Regions from separate parts of the Homo sapiens genome. Here region 2 is linked to region 1. The links come from fine-mapping of genetic effects on gene expression. Tissue or cell type: nucleus accumbens. Region 1 holds a variant in brackets; the other region holds the start of a gene. All regions are shown on one strand. Distances are between the middles of the regions.

Region 1 (8,207 bases):
CTGGCATGACGAGCTGGAGCAGATCGTGCTGCACAACCGGAGAAGACAGAATTACCTCTGCTCTTTTAATATATAATGATGGCTTTAAATAAAATTAGGAGAAAATGTCGAAGCAGCAGCTCCTTCCACTCTTGGCCTGGGTGGCCCTAGTTCCACTGTACACTTTGGCCACTGCGTCACTGCCGGTTCCAGGGCAGCCGGGAGCCCCACTTGGGACCCTGGCCCTCCCTTCTGTGAGGCTGGTGCTTCGGGACGTCGCCTTGCTCGAGGGGGTGGTCCTGCCCACTGCGCGGCAGGGTGCACCGGCTCCTTAAAGGGCCTCCCACTGCAAAAGCGAAGCCCGCAGTGGGTATTGAAAGGGCCTGGCCCAGCGTTTGCTTACGGTTTCCCACAGCTGAAATGCCCAGCTCAGAACCTGTCCCAAGGCTGAGATGGGGCTGATGGCCCCCTTATTCTGACAGAGTCCGTTCTGCTGCTTGCTCCTGGCTAGCCAGATGCCAGACCTCCCTGGAGGTAGTTCCTGTCACTGGCAGAACAGTGCCCTCTGCCGGCCTTCCTTGGTGCCTGTCTCTTGGTGGCAGGTCCAGCCTCTATGGCTGCAGGGAAGGCTGAGCGCAGGGAGGCCAGGGCTCCTGCCTGCCTCGGGGAGCTGGGCAGCTGGCATCATTATTTGCACTGAGCTTGACTGTTCTCCATCCTGTCTCTGCTGCCAGATTAATCTTCTAAAACACCACTTTCATCGTCTCACTCCCCTGATTAAAGACCCACAGAGGTGCCTCACCACCTTTTACATCAGGATGCCGGCCAAGGTCTGGCATCCAAGGCCTTCCCTGACTGTCACCTTCCCCCAGGGGTCTCGGCTTCTTTCAGCCCCCGTGCCCCAGAGGACTTCATCACTCTCCCTCCACAGGAGCTAGGGGTGTCATGCAGAGTGCCAGCGTTGGGGTGGACGGACCTGGGCCTGTCCCAGTGATAATGGCAATAATGGAAATTGCCCTGGTTCCTGTTTACGACCTGCCATGTCTCTACATGAGCTAAGCACATGTCATATATTCGCTAATTTAGTCCTTACAGTGCAGAGTCTTACCATCCCCCTTTTACAAATGAGGAGCTGGAGTCAGAGAATTAAGACACTTAGCCAAGGGGTGGCCGAGCCACGATCGTGGACGCCAGAGCCCGGCTCCCAGCCGCCGTCCTCTTCTGCCTCCTCCCGAGCTTGGCTGGGAGCAGGTGGGGGTTAGGCTGCCTCTCAAGGTCACTGTGAGAAGTGAAGTAACGGGTGTGCAGGGCATCTGGGCACACGGTGTCAGCCAAGGTCAGGCTCTCGCGTCCCCCTTCTTTTCCTGTTACTCAACATGAAGCCACTGTAGCGGCCGCGTCATGCCTTCAGCAAGTAGTTACCAAGGGCCTACCATTTGCCGGGCATTTTCCTAGGCACTAGCAACGCCAGGCTGCTGGTTTCGTGTCACATGTTCCAAAAGGGAAGGCTCACCATAACCAAGGGGATGCAGCGGGGACATTTCCGGTTGCCCCAGAATTGGTTACCAGGGCCACAGCTGTGGACAAAGATGCTAAATAAACCACCTCCTAAAGAGATCATGGAAGCTTAGGGCCAGCCCCCTTCCCCATGGCCCTAGTAGAGGCGGAAGAATTGGTCCTGCTGCTGTGAGCTCCCCTTCCCCCTACTCCCCACTCCTCCCTGTCTGTATAAGATTGGAATGGTCAAGAGAGATGGGAGTGAGGGTGGCCACTGTGTTGGTGAGTGGGTGCCCCCCCCATCACCCCCTTGCCCCGCCAAGGGAAGGAGGCCCAAGAGGATCCTCCTGAGACAGGATGCTGCCAGGAAGAGGGGGCTGGCACCACACCCCCAGCCGGATGCTCTCTGAGCTGCAGAAACCTGGTGCCAGCTGCAGCACAGGGTGGCGAGGGCACCCTTGGGAAGCTCAGCACACATCCCCAGAGCTGTTTGGTCCCCTCTGGGGGGCGTTCCATGGGGAGAGGCTTGGGGAGAAGCCTGCACCAGCAGTGGGAAAAGCAAGGACCGCGTCTGGAAGGGCGGCACGGGTGTTCCACGGAAGGCTCCTAGAAGGACCCACATGGAGTGGAGTCATGTGACCAGCCAGCCAGGTACTGACAAAGGGAGCTGTTTCCTACCTGGAAAAGGGCAGGGGGCCTCTTCCCCTGGCAGGGCTGGAGGGGAATGTGGCTGCCCCTTCCTGAGGAGACCCCAGCAACAGAGGAGGCTCAGCCCCAAAACAACCAAGTACCTCCCCCACCCCCTGCCACCACGGAGATAACAGATGGAACCAGACCCAGAGGAGGCCTGTGGAGAAGACACGCAGCTCCTCCCTGGCCCCTCTGTTCCAAGTTACTCCAGAGAGAGGAAGAAAAGATCTTGCTCCCCTCCCCACCCTTCTGGAAAAGAGATTTGAACAAACACTTTGGAAGCTTTGAGCTGGCCTGGCCTGCCTTTCAGTGACTAGGATGGTCTGAAACGTGTCGGGATCAGCCTGCTAGGAAGACCCAGCAGGAAGGGGACCTCTGCAGAGCTTGATGGAAAAAAGTAATTAGGAAAAAGTAAAATGGTTTTGTTTCAGAGCCCATGGATTCGAGATTCTCCAATAAACTGGTTCTACAAGTAAATAAATGATCAAGATAATTTGAGGCAGTGCAGATGACAAAACGGAGCTGAGATGGGTGTTGATTTGTGGGGTAACTGGTTTGGGGGGATAGGAAGGACTATGAGAAGAAGGGACATTTGCACTGAGATTCAGCAAGAAGGTCAGCAAGTGCAAAGGCCCTGAGGCACGAACAAGCTTGGAACATGGAGGAACTTAAGGCCGGTGAAGACATACCCTGGTGTGTGCCGGGGAAGGAGAGGAAGGTGAGATAGGGAGGGTCCACAGTGGGAGGAATTTCTATTTTATTCCAAAGGCAACAGGAAGCCAGAGGTGGATGGACATCAGAGCTTTTTTTTTTTTTTTTTTTTGAGAGTCTCGTTCTGTCACCCAGGCTGGAGTGCAATGGTGCAATCTTGGCTCACCGCACCTCTGCCTCCCAGGTTCAAGCAATTCTCCTGCCTCAGCCTTCCGAGTAGCTGGGATTACAGACATGCACCACCACGCCTGGCTAATTTTTGTATTTTTTAGTAGGGATGGGGTTTCTCTATGTTGGCCAGGCTGGTCTTGAACACCTGTCCTCAGGTGATCCACCCACCTCTGCCTCCCAAAATGCTGGGATTACGGGCGTAAGCCACCGCGCCCAGCCGGACATCAGAGATTTTACATCCTCACAGTGCCCAGCACTATTTGGGAACCTAACAAGTGGCTATTAATTACTTCACTTGCCTAAAGAACCCACTCTCAATGAGCAAACATTGACAAAATGCATGCTGCGTCTGCAGATTTTATTCCTGAAAGAAGGCATTTGCTGAATGAATGCTTGAATCAAGCAGTTGCTGAGCACCTACTATGTGCCAATCCCTGTTCTATATCTTGGGATTTTGTCAGTGAGTAACACAAAAATGCCTCCCCTCAGGGTGCTTACGTTCAAGGGGGGTGAGCGAGGTGTTTGATTGAATAGGTAAATTTTGCAGTCTGTTAGGTTGCAATAGAGCAGAGGCGTGCAGAGGACGTGCCAGGGTGGGGGCTGCAATATTAAACAGGGAAGTCGGGAAGACCTTCCTTGGAAGGTGATGTTTAAGCAGGATTTGAAGGTCATAGCACCTGGCACCCTCTAGGCATCATTGGCTCATCAGTGACCCCTCAGAGGTGGAGCTTGACCACTTTCTTTTCCTAGTGCCCAACGCTGGACCTCCGTAAAGTCCGATGAGTGTGGGAGGTGTGGATGGACACCAGAGATGCATACCCTGCCCTAGAATCACCTGCCATCCATAGAGGAGAAAAAGGAGCCGACTCTTGATTTCTAAACTCCAGTGGAACCCAAAAAGCGTTGATCTTTCAAATCCTGAGGGAGGTTAGAGGAACCGCCCCTCTGTCTCCTTTAGGATCTCCGAAGAAGGTTCTGTTTGTTGTCCTCCACGATTCTTGCCTTCTGTAAGAGCGGTTTGGCCTGGGACCTGGCCTCTTGTCCTCTTCCATGGCTCTGGGCTGGCCATTCCGCAGCATCTTTTAGAGCTGCCTCTTGACATCACCTGATTCAGCCAGAGAGGGCGGGGAAGCCGAGGTGACTGGGAGGGTGGACACACTGTGGGGCCGGTCGTGTTTGGGGTGGGTGTTCAGAAACAGTTGCCCAGTTCCAAAGCACTGCCTCTGTGACACCCAGGCCCTTCCCTGCCGCATCCATTCAGATGTGGATGGGGTAGGAGAAGCCCGCCAGGCAGGTTTCCCTGGACGGTGTTTCTGCTGTGAAAGGAGCCCTGTAGTTTTCCGTATCTGGGAAACATGCATTGGATAGACCATCTTCTGGAAGGAGAGATGGGGGCAAGAGGCAACCTGCTTCCATGTCTATAAATAAAATGCATTCATTTTGGTGCTAAAATGTTGTGGTTTTAAAAATGGAATACTAAAAACTTCCTGGCCCAAGCTGGAGTGGCAAGAAGCACAGATTCAGTTGATCCCAGGATGGGAACTGAAATTTACACTAAGCCACATCTACTGGACGATTGGTGCCCATCCTGGAGATGCAGAAGGAAGCCTTTGGTTTTGCACCTGTGCTTCCCATTCCAGCATTCATCTCTGTCCAGGGTCCTGCCCTGCATTGGAGATCAGGGAGGACTGAGGAGGTGGCCTGGAGGAGCTCCAGGTCTGCTGCCTAGGAAGGGTTTCCAGGACCTTGCAGGGAAATACCTGATGTTAGCCAGGGAAGAGAATTCCAGACAAAGGGAAGCATATGCAAAGGCCCTGAGGCATGAAGCTGGAGGCCCTCTTGGGGAACCGTGTGCGTTGTAGGGTTTGGGGAGAGACGGGTGCCCAGCAGGTGAGGTCAGAGACAAGGATGAAGCAAGAACATGGAGCTCTTTGTACCCAGAGCAGAGGAGTTGGACTTTCTCCAGAAGGGAGTGGAGA[G/A]CCATTATCAGAAGTGACTCACCTGGATTTTTGCTTTGGAAAGATCAGCCTGGAGGAATTGGAGGGTGGAGTGGGAGAGAAGGTGCCTGGAGGTAAGGAGACCAAGAGCTGATGGGGATGAGGGGTAAGGTAGGACAAGGCTTGCACCATCTCCAGCATTTGCAAAACTTGGGGAAATGTATTTTCAGCCCCTTAGAGTTGTCCTCATTTCACACACCCATCCTTTTTGTTCAGAACACCAATTGATTTTTAAAGTGTGTTATCCTTTATTTACTTTAGAGACAGAAAACACAGAGAGAGTGACTTCTCCGGGTTGCAAATTGTCAGTGATGGAGCCAGGATTAAGAACTCGGGCTGGCCAGCCCTCTGTGGATCGTATGATGTTTATGTATACGATGCCCATTCACTCTTCTGCCCTGCCAGCAAACAGAGCTGATGAATATGAGGAGAATGGCAGCGAAGAGCTTGTTTCCATTCTAAAAAGGCAAGAAGCCTAGGAAGGCTCATTAGGAGAAAATATTGAATGGGCAGCTTTCGAGTTTCACCTGTGATCTGAGAGGGAAAGTGTATTTTCACCGAAGCCATTATGTAACTGGTTCCGGGGGGCAGAGAGGAGTGACCAGAGAAGAGAATGAGGGCAAGAGACCAGGAGAGCAAAGACAGGGTCACCATCTAGAGGGCAGGGGCTACATCTGACATCCCCTGTAGACCCTCTGGATGCAGCCAAGGTTTAGAGGTTAGAGCACTGCTTTCATATCAGACGAGTGGAATTAGGATTGCAGCGGTGTGTCCTTGGACAAAGCACTGATCCTCTCTGGCCCTCAATTTTCTTGTTTATGAAATGGGAATAATACCACTAACCTTACCAGTTTTTGTGGGTGGATGGAGATATATAAAACCTACTTTTAGAAGGCATGATATATAGTAAACGTTCAGTGCTTTATAGGTGATTTCCAAATCATCTGTAGTAACTATGGCTTTTTTACAAGCATGGAAATAATGTGTGTTTATTTAAAAAAAAAAGAAACTATTACTAAAAAGCATAAAGAAGAAAGTAGAAAATATTCAAATCCTACCACTCAGAGATAGCCACCCATCACATCCAGGCATGTGCACCTCCTCCCTTTCTCCTCCACATGTACAAATATGTACATATTTTGAAGCCAAAAACAAAATGTGATAATGCCATATATGAAATTTGGAACTTATCTCTTTTCATTTAACAATATCTGGTGGGTATTATTTCAGGTCAGAAAATATGATTTTAGGCCAGGTGCAGTGGCTCACGACTGTAATCTCAACATTTTGGGAGGCTGAGGTGGGCGGATCACTTGAGGTCAGGAGTTCGAGACCAGCCTGGCCAACATGGTGAAACTCCATCTCTACTAAAAATATAAAAATTAGCTAGGCATGATGGTGGGCAGCTGTAATCCCAGCTACTCGGGAGGCTGAGGCAAGAGAATCTCTTGAACCCAGGATGGGGAGGTTACAGTGAGCGAGACTCTGTCTCAAATATATGTATCATATATATCACATATATATGATATATATATCATATATATGATATGTGATATATATGATATATATCATATATATGTGATATATGTGATATATATGATATATATCATATATGTGATATATATATGATATATATGATATATATATGATATATATGATATATATGACATATATGATATATATGATATATATGATATATATGTGACATATATGATATATATATGATATATATGTGATATACATCATATATATATCACATATATATCATATCATATATCACATATATATCATATCATATATCACATATATATCATATCATATATATCATATATAACATATATATCATATATATCATATATAACATATATATCATATGTATCATATATATCATATATATCATATGTATCATATATATCATATATATCATATATATCTCATATATCTCATATATATCATATATATCATATATAAATCATATATATCATATATATGATATATAAATCATATATGTATCATATATATCATATATGTATCATATATACATATATATGATACATATATGTATCATATATATGATGCATATATGTATCATGTATATCTCATATATATCATATATATCTCATATATATCATATCTCATATATCTCATATATCTCATATATATCATATATATGATCATATATGATCATATATGATATATATGATCATATATGATATATATATCCCATATATATCATATATATGATATATATGTGATTTTACATGGTCTTTTTATTTCTTTTTAAATCGTGAGAATTGTAAAACCTACACAAAAACAGAACAGCATGATGAACGCTCATTTACCTGACAGCCAGATTCGGAACTTCCAAGATCCTGCCGCACTTGCTCTGTCCTGCTCCCCTGCCATGATGGTGGTGGTTACGATCGTTTAAACCAAATGCCAGCCCTCCAGTCACTGCCTCTAAACCAACCACAAAGCCATTATCACACCACATAAAATTAATAGTAATTCTTTAGGAGCATCTACTGTTCAGTCCACAGTCAAATTTCCCTGATTTACTCCCAAAGGTTCTTTTGCAGTTGGTTTATTACGTGACCCACGCATAATGATTTCCAGTTGAAGGACACCAGGTTTCCAGGTGGTCACTCAGGAAAACAGCCAAGGACAGTGTCCCCTTGCACATATCTGTGGACCCCTGTCCAATTATTTCTGCAGGACATACATTCCTAGAAAGGGACATTCCAAGTCAAAGTCTACGTACTTTTTTAAAAAAGCTTTTAATAGCATTTGACAAATTGCCCTCCAGATAAATTGTACCAGTTTACACTCCTAGGAGTGGGGACTGGCACCCTGGACAGCTCTGGGTCGTTAATGAAAAGAAATTAGAGAGAGAGAAGGCAGGTGGAGAGAAAAAGAGAGAAGGAAGAGAGGGCTGGAGTGAGAGGGAGCAGAGTGACACTGCAGAGCTCTGGTGCCCCCTGGGTGCCAGCCTGCCCGAGCCAGAGAGGAGCTCAGAGAACCAAGGGTATCAACCAACCAGCGGCTGCACCAGATTAAGCCCTAAAGCAACGATTCAGTCGAGACCGAGAACAAAGCTGAAGCAAAGACTCTTCGATCCATTCTAATTAGGAGCTGCCTTTCCAGAGAAATCAAGAGCAGGCT
Region 2 (8,171 bases), 21 kb before region 1:
GTTTCTACTGCAGCTACAGTGTTTTAAATTTAAGTTCATTGCCAACACTAACAGGTCAGGGGATTTCACACAAAAATCCAGATTCCTGGCTCCTCTAGAAAAGTGTGCAACCCTGGGCCCGTATTCCCACATTGCCGTGATATCTCACCCAGAGGTAAAGCCTGGGGCTCTGTCATCCCCACCCTTCAGTGGATCCAGCAACCAACACCATGCCTGGCTGATGGTAGGCACTCAAGAAAAGCTAATTAATGAAAATGGAGAGACTATGCTGGATAATGGGGGAAAACAAAGAAACAAACATTGGTCCCCAGAGTCAAGAGATCTGAGGCTGGTTCTGGATCTGGCTGACTTGTTGCATGACCTTGGCCTCTCTGTGGCTCTTTCCTTTCTTCAAATGAATGAGAGTTTCCACTTCCCAGGGTCATGGTTTCATACAGGAGAGAGGATGTGAAGTGCTTAGCAGATGCCTCACATCTAATGCTCAATCAACGCAAGTTATTACGGCAAGGAACTCAATAAGTATTTGCTCTTTAGGAAGGGTGAGAAGGAGTTCAAATCCATCTCTGCTACTCACTAGCTAGGTGACCTTCGGTGTTTCACTTAATCTCATTTGGGCCCTAGTTTCCCCATCTATCAAATGGGGATGATACATGGTTATTGTGAATATCAAATGTAAATGTGAAATTAAACTAATTAATCCCTAAAATCACTTAGAACAAGGCCAGCCTTAAGTCTGTGGTCAACATAGGCCAGCTGTGACTATTAGAGCTGCTCAGAAATGGGATAACTCGAATTGCTCAGGAGCCCCCATGGCTCCAAAATTCTCTGACCACCTTAAACCTAGTGACTCTCATTCAGCTTACCTTCAGTCACAGAAATGTATAGAAGGCCCTTGGGTCCATGAGGTGAAGGGGGACAGAATTCACCATACAAGTGTTTACCATCTCTCTAGAAAGTTCTACAATGCTCTTATGATAATGCTGACTAAAATCACACAGAGTAGCAGCAACAAAAGGGAGACAGTGGGTGGGGAACAGAGAACAGCCCTGGGAGGGAGGTGTGATTATTACCTGCAAGAGTTAAAGAAAGAGGCAAGAAACATGAAAAGTGGCTCAACAGTTAAATACAGGTTTATTTTGGAGCATAAACCTGAGAGGGGCTTCTGGCCAATTTCAGTCAGGAGTGCTCTCTCTTACAGACTAAGAGTATTTAAGGGTTTAGGGCAAGAGAGCTTACCACAGGCTTGGAATGTTTCTGTGTGGAGGAGAAGTTTACTGTGGGGTTGGAATGTCTCCGGTCTGAGGGTGGGTTATGTTGGGGCTGACATCTCTCTGACCAGAGGGGAGGTTATCTTGGGGCTGCATGTCTCTGGTCGGGGGGTGGGTTTATCTTAGGGTTGGAATGTTTCTGATTGGAGATGTCACTTGTGGTTTATGGTCATTCTGACATTAGCCATTAGGCTGATGCCCTTTGGGTTGAATTTAGGCCGTTTTTGATCAAGGAGAACTTTAAAATGGCAGTGCTTGTCCAAGATGGCTATGCTCCGGCTCTGTCATTACCCACCTCGCAAAATGAAGGAACCAAGGCTTCGGAGGCTGCCCTGATGTGTGTCTGTGTCTTAGCTACGTGGAGCTGCCTCGGGAGGGTGACTCACCAAATGGGGTCCTTTAAGGGATTAACAGGGTCACTCATGGTGAACAGGTTGGCCTGGAGGGGAGCCGGCAAGAGGAAGGCAGAAGACCAGAAAGAGGCTTTTTGCTCACTCAGACCTGGATGTCTGAGACAGACTCACGTGATGTCACCAAAGAAGAAAAGCAGTTACGAGAAATGAAGGAGAAACAGACCTTTACCGTAGCGCCAGGAATGAATCCCAAGGAAAGAACATCTCAGACAACTTGCATTTACTCTGGATTCGGGGCTGAAACCATCAGCCATTCATAGAGTGTGTGTGTTTATTCCCCCACACAAGGCTGGCAGCCACTCTGAGATGCAGAGTGGCGGAGAGGTGGAATGTTCTAGGTGTCTGGAGGGAATGTGGAACTTTCGCACAGGCACCTTTGCTGAGGGGCTGCTCTTCCCTTCAGCATCAGCCATCAGAATCCCAGGGGCCCTGAGAAAGTGAGAACAAGGGGTACATTCGGCCAACCAGTGACAGTGATGATAAACCAAATCTGTCCAGATAAGCTTCCGCTCTCCCATCCACCCCACAATCACGTGTGCACCTACTATCTCCCAGGCACTCATACGTTTCTCTCCTTCCATCTCCACAACCACCCCACAAGGCGGGTTCTCCTAGGCCCATCCTGAGGCTGAGGGATGAGGTGACTTGTCCAGGCCAGGGATTTAGGTCTCTGACCCCCTAACCACGTGCAAGAGGCACCCCCAACCCAGTAAACGCGTACAGAGAGCCTCCCTGGGTGACGGGCAAACGAGGTTAGTGATGCATTCTCCTTTTGCAGAGAGTAAATGGACTAAGAGCAAAGTACGACTTCAAGTTTCCGAGTCTCACCGCTTAGCCCCATCAAAGTGTATTTGTTCTCCCTTTGTTCACAAACATCACTTTAATAAAACACCTTCATATTTTAGATTTTAACGCTCATTACATCTTTGAGCTTTTAAAATGAGATTTCCCTGCGGGATGCGGGGCAAGGACTGCACTTCTCCATGCACTTTAATAGCCGCGCTGTGCAGAACCCGGGAACCGGGGAAGCCGCGAGAACCGCGCGAAGTCAGAGCAAGTCAAAACGACCTCTACAGCGGCGGCCTGGCCCACTGCGCAGGCGCCGCTCCAGACCGCCTAGAGCCCAACCTGCCCCATTGTAGGCGAACCCACTTCTAGAAGGACAGCGGGAGTGGCGAATCCCTATTCCTCCCGAAGATGGGTCAAGCCAGACTCTGACCAATCAGAAAGCTTCTCTTGTCACCGCTTCTGACTGCTTGACGTGGAGGCTTCTTTATCTCGGGACTCTCAGGCGCAGCGGGGGCGGGATATAAAGCTGGTTGACGTCAATTACAACCACTCGTCAAGCAGACTGAACTTGAAGAACTGATAACTCTACGAATTGCATCTCAAGAAAAGGCTGTTATCCCAGCTCTCTACTCCCATTGGATTTTTGTGAGACCTTGAGGGTGGGAGCTTTTGGCGGCAACCAATCGAGGGTCAGCGAGGAGGAGGAGGAGGCGGGGCAGGTGGGCTATGGTTGCTTGGAGAGTGCATCCGGCCCGGTACTTGTGATCGGAGGAGAGCCGGATCGTCCTTCCTTGAACCCTCTGGGTAGGGCTGTGCTGAGGGGCTGGGCGGGGAGCACAGGCCGTGTCCGCTCGCTTGCACCTTTTCAGACTGCCGTGTCAGGCCTCGAGCCGGGCCCACCTGGAGCCCTCCCCTGCCCACCCGCCCCCAGCGCCCGATATCCGCCCCCGGCCCAGAAGGGCCGGGCTCGGTCATCCCCAGTCCCGTCGCGGCCACTGACCCTTGAGATCAGCCCTCCCCTCCCCACCTTCCCGTCCCAGGCCAGCCCAGGGCCCGAAGCCCACCCACTCGCGTCTCTAGCAGCCGCTCTTGTCCTCTGGGTACGGCTCGCGGGAGTGTTGGTTACCATGGTGAAGCTGGCAGCCAAATGCATCCTGGCAGGTGAGTCTGAAAACTTGCGCTTGAATACGGTGGTCTCTGGAGTCCAGAGCCTTCATAATTCATCCAGAGCTTTTGTTCACCTAAATTGCCTACCTTTTCCTTTCTCTCTCCCAAAGGCGAGTTACTGCAATTACTGATACAGTAAATTACGTTAGGCGTGGAAGAATGATCTTCCAGGGCACTTCGCAGCTCCAGTGGATTTCCCCCTGCTCCCTGTCACATACTCTGAGACCACCTTCACCAGTTGAGGTGACTCGTTAAAAAATCACTAGTTACAACTCTGGAGAAGCAGACTTGTTAAAACAAAACAAAACAAACAAAGCTTAAGCAAACCTTGAGTGCTTCAGCTAAACATATACTGTACCCCAAAGTTAGGCATCAGTGACTTTGGTAGTCTTTACTATGGGATTTTTCCCCCGACCTCACCCCCTCTGATAACGGTGACCTGAGTGTAGTGACCAGAGTTTGCAAAAGGCACTTGTGTGTTGTCTTTAAGACCCAAAGTTACTGTGCTGCCCCACTCCAAGAAGGGCATAAATGTTGAGTCTCCCAAAGGCAGGAATCTTTGTTTTGTTGACTGATACATCCCAAGCACCCAGAACAATGCCTGGAACATAGTAGGTACTCAATAAATACTTTTAGAATGGATGAATATGTGAATATGTGGCATGCACATTTGTAGTGTACCCCTTGTATCAGTCTGCACATTTAGAAAAACAATATTTTGGATTATAGACTGCGAAACACATATGCATGTTACTGAGTGCTTACTGCATGTGAAGCACACATATTTCATGTAATCGTCTCACCATAGCACACTGGGCTAGGTACTGGATTGTTTTTCTTTTTTTTTTTTTTTTTTGAGACGGAGTCTCACGCTGTTGCCCAGGCTGGAGGGCAGTGGCGCAATCTCGGCTCACTGCAACCTCCACCTCCCTGGTTCAAGCAATTCCCCTGCCTCAGCCTCCCAAGTAGCTGGGATTACAGGCGCAAGCCACCATGCCCGGCTAATTTTTTTTTGTATTTTTAATAGAGCTGGGGTTTCACCATGTTGGCCAGACTGGTCTCGAACTCCTGACTTCAGGTGATCCACCCACCTCGGCCTCCCAAAGTGCTGGGATTACAGGCATGAGCCACTGCGCCCGGCCAGGTACTGGATTGTTCTGATCTTACTGAGGCACTGAGAGATGTCAGCCAAGGTCAACCCCTAGTGAAGGCCCTATGCAGGATTTCAGCCCCTAGATCTGGCCAACTCCAAAACTCTTAACTCGTGTTTCTGTTGAAACCTGTGACCTTTCCAGGCTTCCCTGGCCAGCTCAGGAAAGAAGTGGTGAGAAATTATATAGAGAAAAAGAGATTCCTGTTTTAAAAAATTCCCCTCTTCCAGACTGAGAATAAATGATAATATTTTTAATGGCTTTTATAATTTGAAAATAAAAGGGTCACACAGAAAGATGACTGACAGTAGTAACTGAATCATACTGGAGCAAAATAAATTAATGGTTCTCAGGAGAATCTCCAGTTTCCAGAGCACCAGAGGAGGCAGTGTTGTGTAACAAAAGTAATTTTGCCTGTTCCTCTTATTGGCTGTGTCATCTTGGACGAAGCACTTTTTGAGCTTTAATTTCCTTATGGATAAGGTGGGAACATTATTTTCTGAAGTTACTTTTTTTTTTAAATGGGCTTCTCTCTGGGTTCTTTTTAAATTCGGTTTTCATCATGGAGCTAACTTACTGGCGCTTTGGGTGCATCAGCTCTGCTAGACCCTCAATACAGGTGGTCTCATTGAATCCTCATAGCAACCCTGTGGGATTGGCATTATTGCCATCCTCATTTACAGATGAGGCAACTGAGGCCCAGAAAAATGAGAACATTTGCCATGGGTCACAGAGCTGGAAGTGGCAGAGCTGTATGATCCAGACCCTGGGTCCCAATCTGATTTCCAGGGCTTTAGCCCAAGCTACTCTGTCCTCAAGTAGTGCTCCTCTGTGTCCTTCTATTTTTTTTTTTTTTTTTTTTGAGACGGAGTTTCACTCTCATTGCCTAAGCTGGAGTGCAATGGCACAATCTCAGCTCACTGCAACCTCCACCTCCTGGGTTCAAGCGATTCTTCTGCCTCAGCCTCCCAAGTAGCTGGGATTACAGGCGCCCACCACCATACCCAGCTAATTTTTTGTATTTTTTAGTGGAGACTGGGTTTCACCATGTTAGCCAGGCTGGTCTTGAACTCCTGACGTCAGGTGATCTGCCCGCCTCGGCCTCCCAAAGTGCTGGGATTACAGGCGTGAGTCACTGTGCCCGGACCTTTTTTTTTGAGGCGTAATTTCACTCTGTCTCCCAGGCTGGAGTGCAGTGGTGCACAACCTTAGCTCACTGCAACTTCCACCTCCTGGGTTTAAATGATTCCCTGCCTCAGCCTCCCGAGCAGCCGGGGATACAGGCACACACCACCATGCCCAGTTAATTTTTGTATTTTTAGTAGAGATGGGGTTTCACCAGTTGGTCAGGCTGGTCTTGAACTCCAGACCTCAAGTGATCCACCTGCCTCAGCCTCCCAAAGTGCTGGGATTACAGGCGTGAGCCACCCACTATGCCCGGCCTCTTTGTGCCCTTCTTTACCCCCAACTCCCTTGGGTAGTTCTTTCACCTGAGTGCAGCCACTGCCTAGTTAGTGGCTCCTGAACTCCAGCCTGCGCCTCAATCTGCAGCCTCTTTTCAGGGATTCCACAGCATTTCCTCTTGGAAGTTTCCAGGGACCAAAAGACCTCAGCCCAGAAATCAGCCCCCTCTGACACCTGTCCACCCACCCCCACCACACACATGCCATTGGTTTTATTTTTCCATCCATGACCCACAGCCCTACTGTTTAAACTGAGTTACTCTGTTTTTTCTCTCACATAACTGGTCATTGAAGGACCTGACGTTCAGTTCAAGTGTTTATGCATTGAACAGATACTCGCTGAGCACCTACTACGTCAGAGTCACCGTGCAAGGTGCAGTGGGCCTGCAAGCATGAGTCAGTTGCACTCAAGGAAGAACTAAGATGCGTGTGATACGTTCTAACACAGCGAACACAAAGTGAATGCCCTTTGTGTGCCAGATGCGGGGAAATGCCTCCAGGCACAGCTGCTACTTGTTCTGGTTCTGGAGAAGAAAGAAAACAACATTTGACATTGATCTGTATTTTGTTTACTTTTAAAAAAACACTTAAATAGTACTTATATATGCCAGGCACTGTGCATATTAACTCATTAAATCCTCATAACAATTCTGTGGGGTAGGTGCTATGATTATCTTAGGTTATACATGTTGCAGCTGAGGCACAGAGAGGTTAAGTAACTGATTTAAACTCACACAGCTAGAAAGTGATGGAGCTGGAGTCTGGCTCCAGAGTCTGTGCCCTTAAGTACCATAATATGCTGCCTCTTGATATACATGGAGATGGTAATAGAGCCTCCTGGGAGGGTTGCTCTGACATCACATCGTGCGCTACCACTGAGCAACGATCCACGTTAGCCACACAGATAAAGATGAAGGAGGGAGAGATGGCCTTCAGAGGCTGTGCAGGAAGGGTATTCTTTGAGCTTTCCTTGCAGAGAATGGACAGGATTTGAATTTGGTCTAGGGGTACCTGGAAGGAGGTGGCCTTGAGGAATTTCCAGGGACTGGGCGAACAGGAATGCAGAGCCCAGATTTGGGGTAAGGGATTACTAGGGAGAGAGTGGGAAGGTGGGTTAGGGCTGACCGTGGAGATGGGTAGGCTATGAAGGAATCCTCAGTGGGGTTTGTGTGAAGGTTTGCCAAGATGGAGGCACTGTGTCATGGGGGTCCACCTGTTGATGCCACCCACTGGGTGGATAACAGCCGGGAGAAAAAAGAAGAGAAAAGAAGTGTTCAAGGCACAGTCGGGAAGACAGAAAACGCAGTCGTCATTTCAGCAGAGAAATTTTAATGTATGGAATTGCTTCATCAAGTGTTGGAGAACTGAGGAAGCAAGAAGGCAGCATTGAGTTGACACAGATTGGCGGGCAGAGGTCGGGGTTGTCAGAAGCTTGAAGAGACCCAGGGAGCTGGGATCCGGACCCCTGAGGAAGGGGCCCTGCCCGGCTGGTCCCGGCACCTCAGGAGTTCAGTCACCTGCCGCGTGACCCCAGCACATGCCACAGAGCACCAGGACCCATTTCCCACTGGGAGGAGCCCAGCCCTGTGTTCAGGGCAAGACACACCAAACCAGTTCCAAACCATCCTGGAGGGTCCATGTTTTAAGACCACTCCTGGTACCAAGGACTACATAAGTCAGGGGCCAGGCAAAAACCAGCAACTCTACTCGGCATTTCAACAGTGAGGATTTCAGTAGGATGTGAATGACACTGGTGCTAGAGGACTGGAAGAGGAAAAGGGGGAAACTGAGGCAGCACGGGTAGTAACTGCAGGAAGGAGCACCACCTCTTGGGCTGGGGAAGCAGAGGGAAGCATGTGGGGCTCTCAGCCCAGAAGCAGGGAGGAGGGGCCCTGGGAGCCAAGGTGTGGATCTCTGAGA

The links. PIP is the estimated chance that this variant, and not a neighbour inherited with it, causes the effect.
Region 2: it holds the start of IFT27, and the variant in region 1 is fine-mapped to the expression of IFT27 in nucleus accumbens (GTEx, PIP 0.98).

What each region holds. Positions count from the first base shown.
Region 1 is chr22:36,750,113-36,758,319 of GRCh38, reverse strand. The region is part of intron 2 of CACNG2-DT (CACNG2 divergent transcript); the gene reads right to left. It overlaps IFT27 (intraflagellar transport 27), which reads left to right. Exons shown (of 7, transcript NM_001177701.3): 7 at 1-109. The coding sequence ends at 9. Among named protein-coding and RNA genes, the nearest start is that of IFT27, 22 kb to the left of the region's middle. The variant G/A (reference allele first, on the strand shown) is at 5,028.
Region 2 is chr22:36,771,134-36,779,304 of GRCh38, reverse strand. It overlaps IFT27 (intraflagellar transport 27), which reads left to right and starts at 3,186. Exons shown (of 7, transcript NM_001177701.3): 1 at 3,186-3,631. The coding sequence starts at 3,598. RefSeq lists enhancers at 1,794-2,357, 2,885-3,144, 2,923-3,486 and silencers at 3,385-3,434, 3,565-3,624.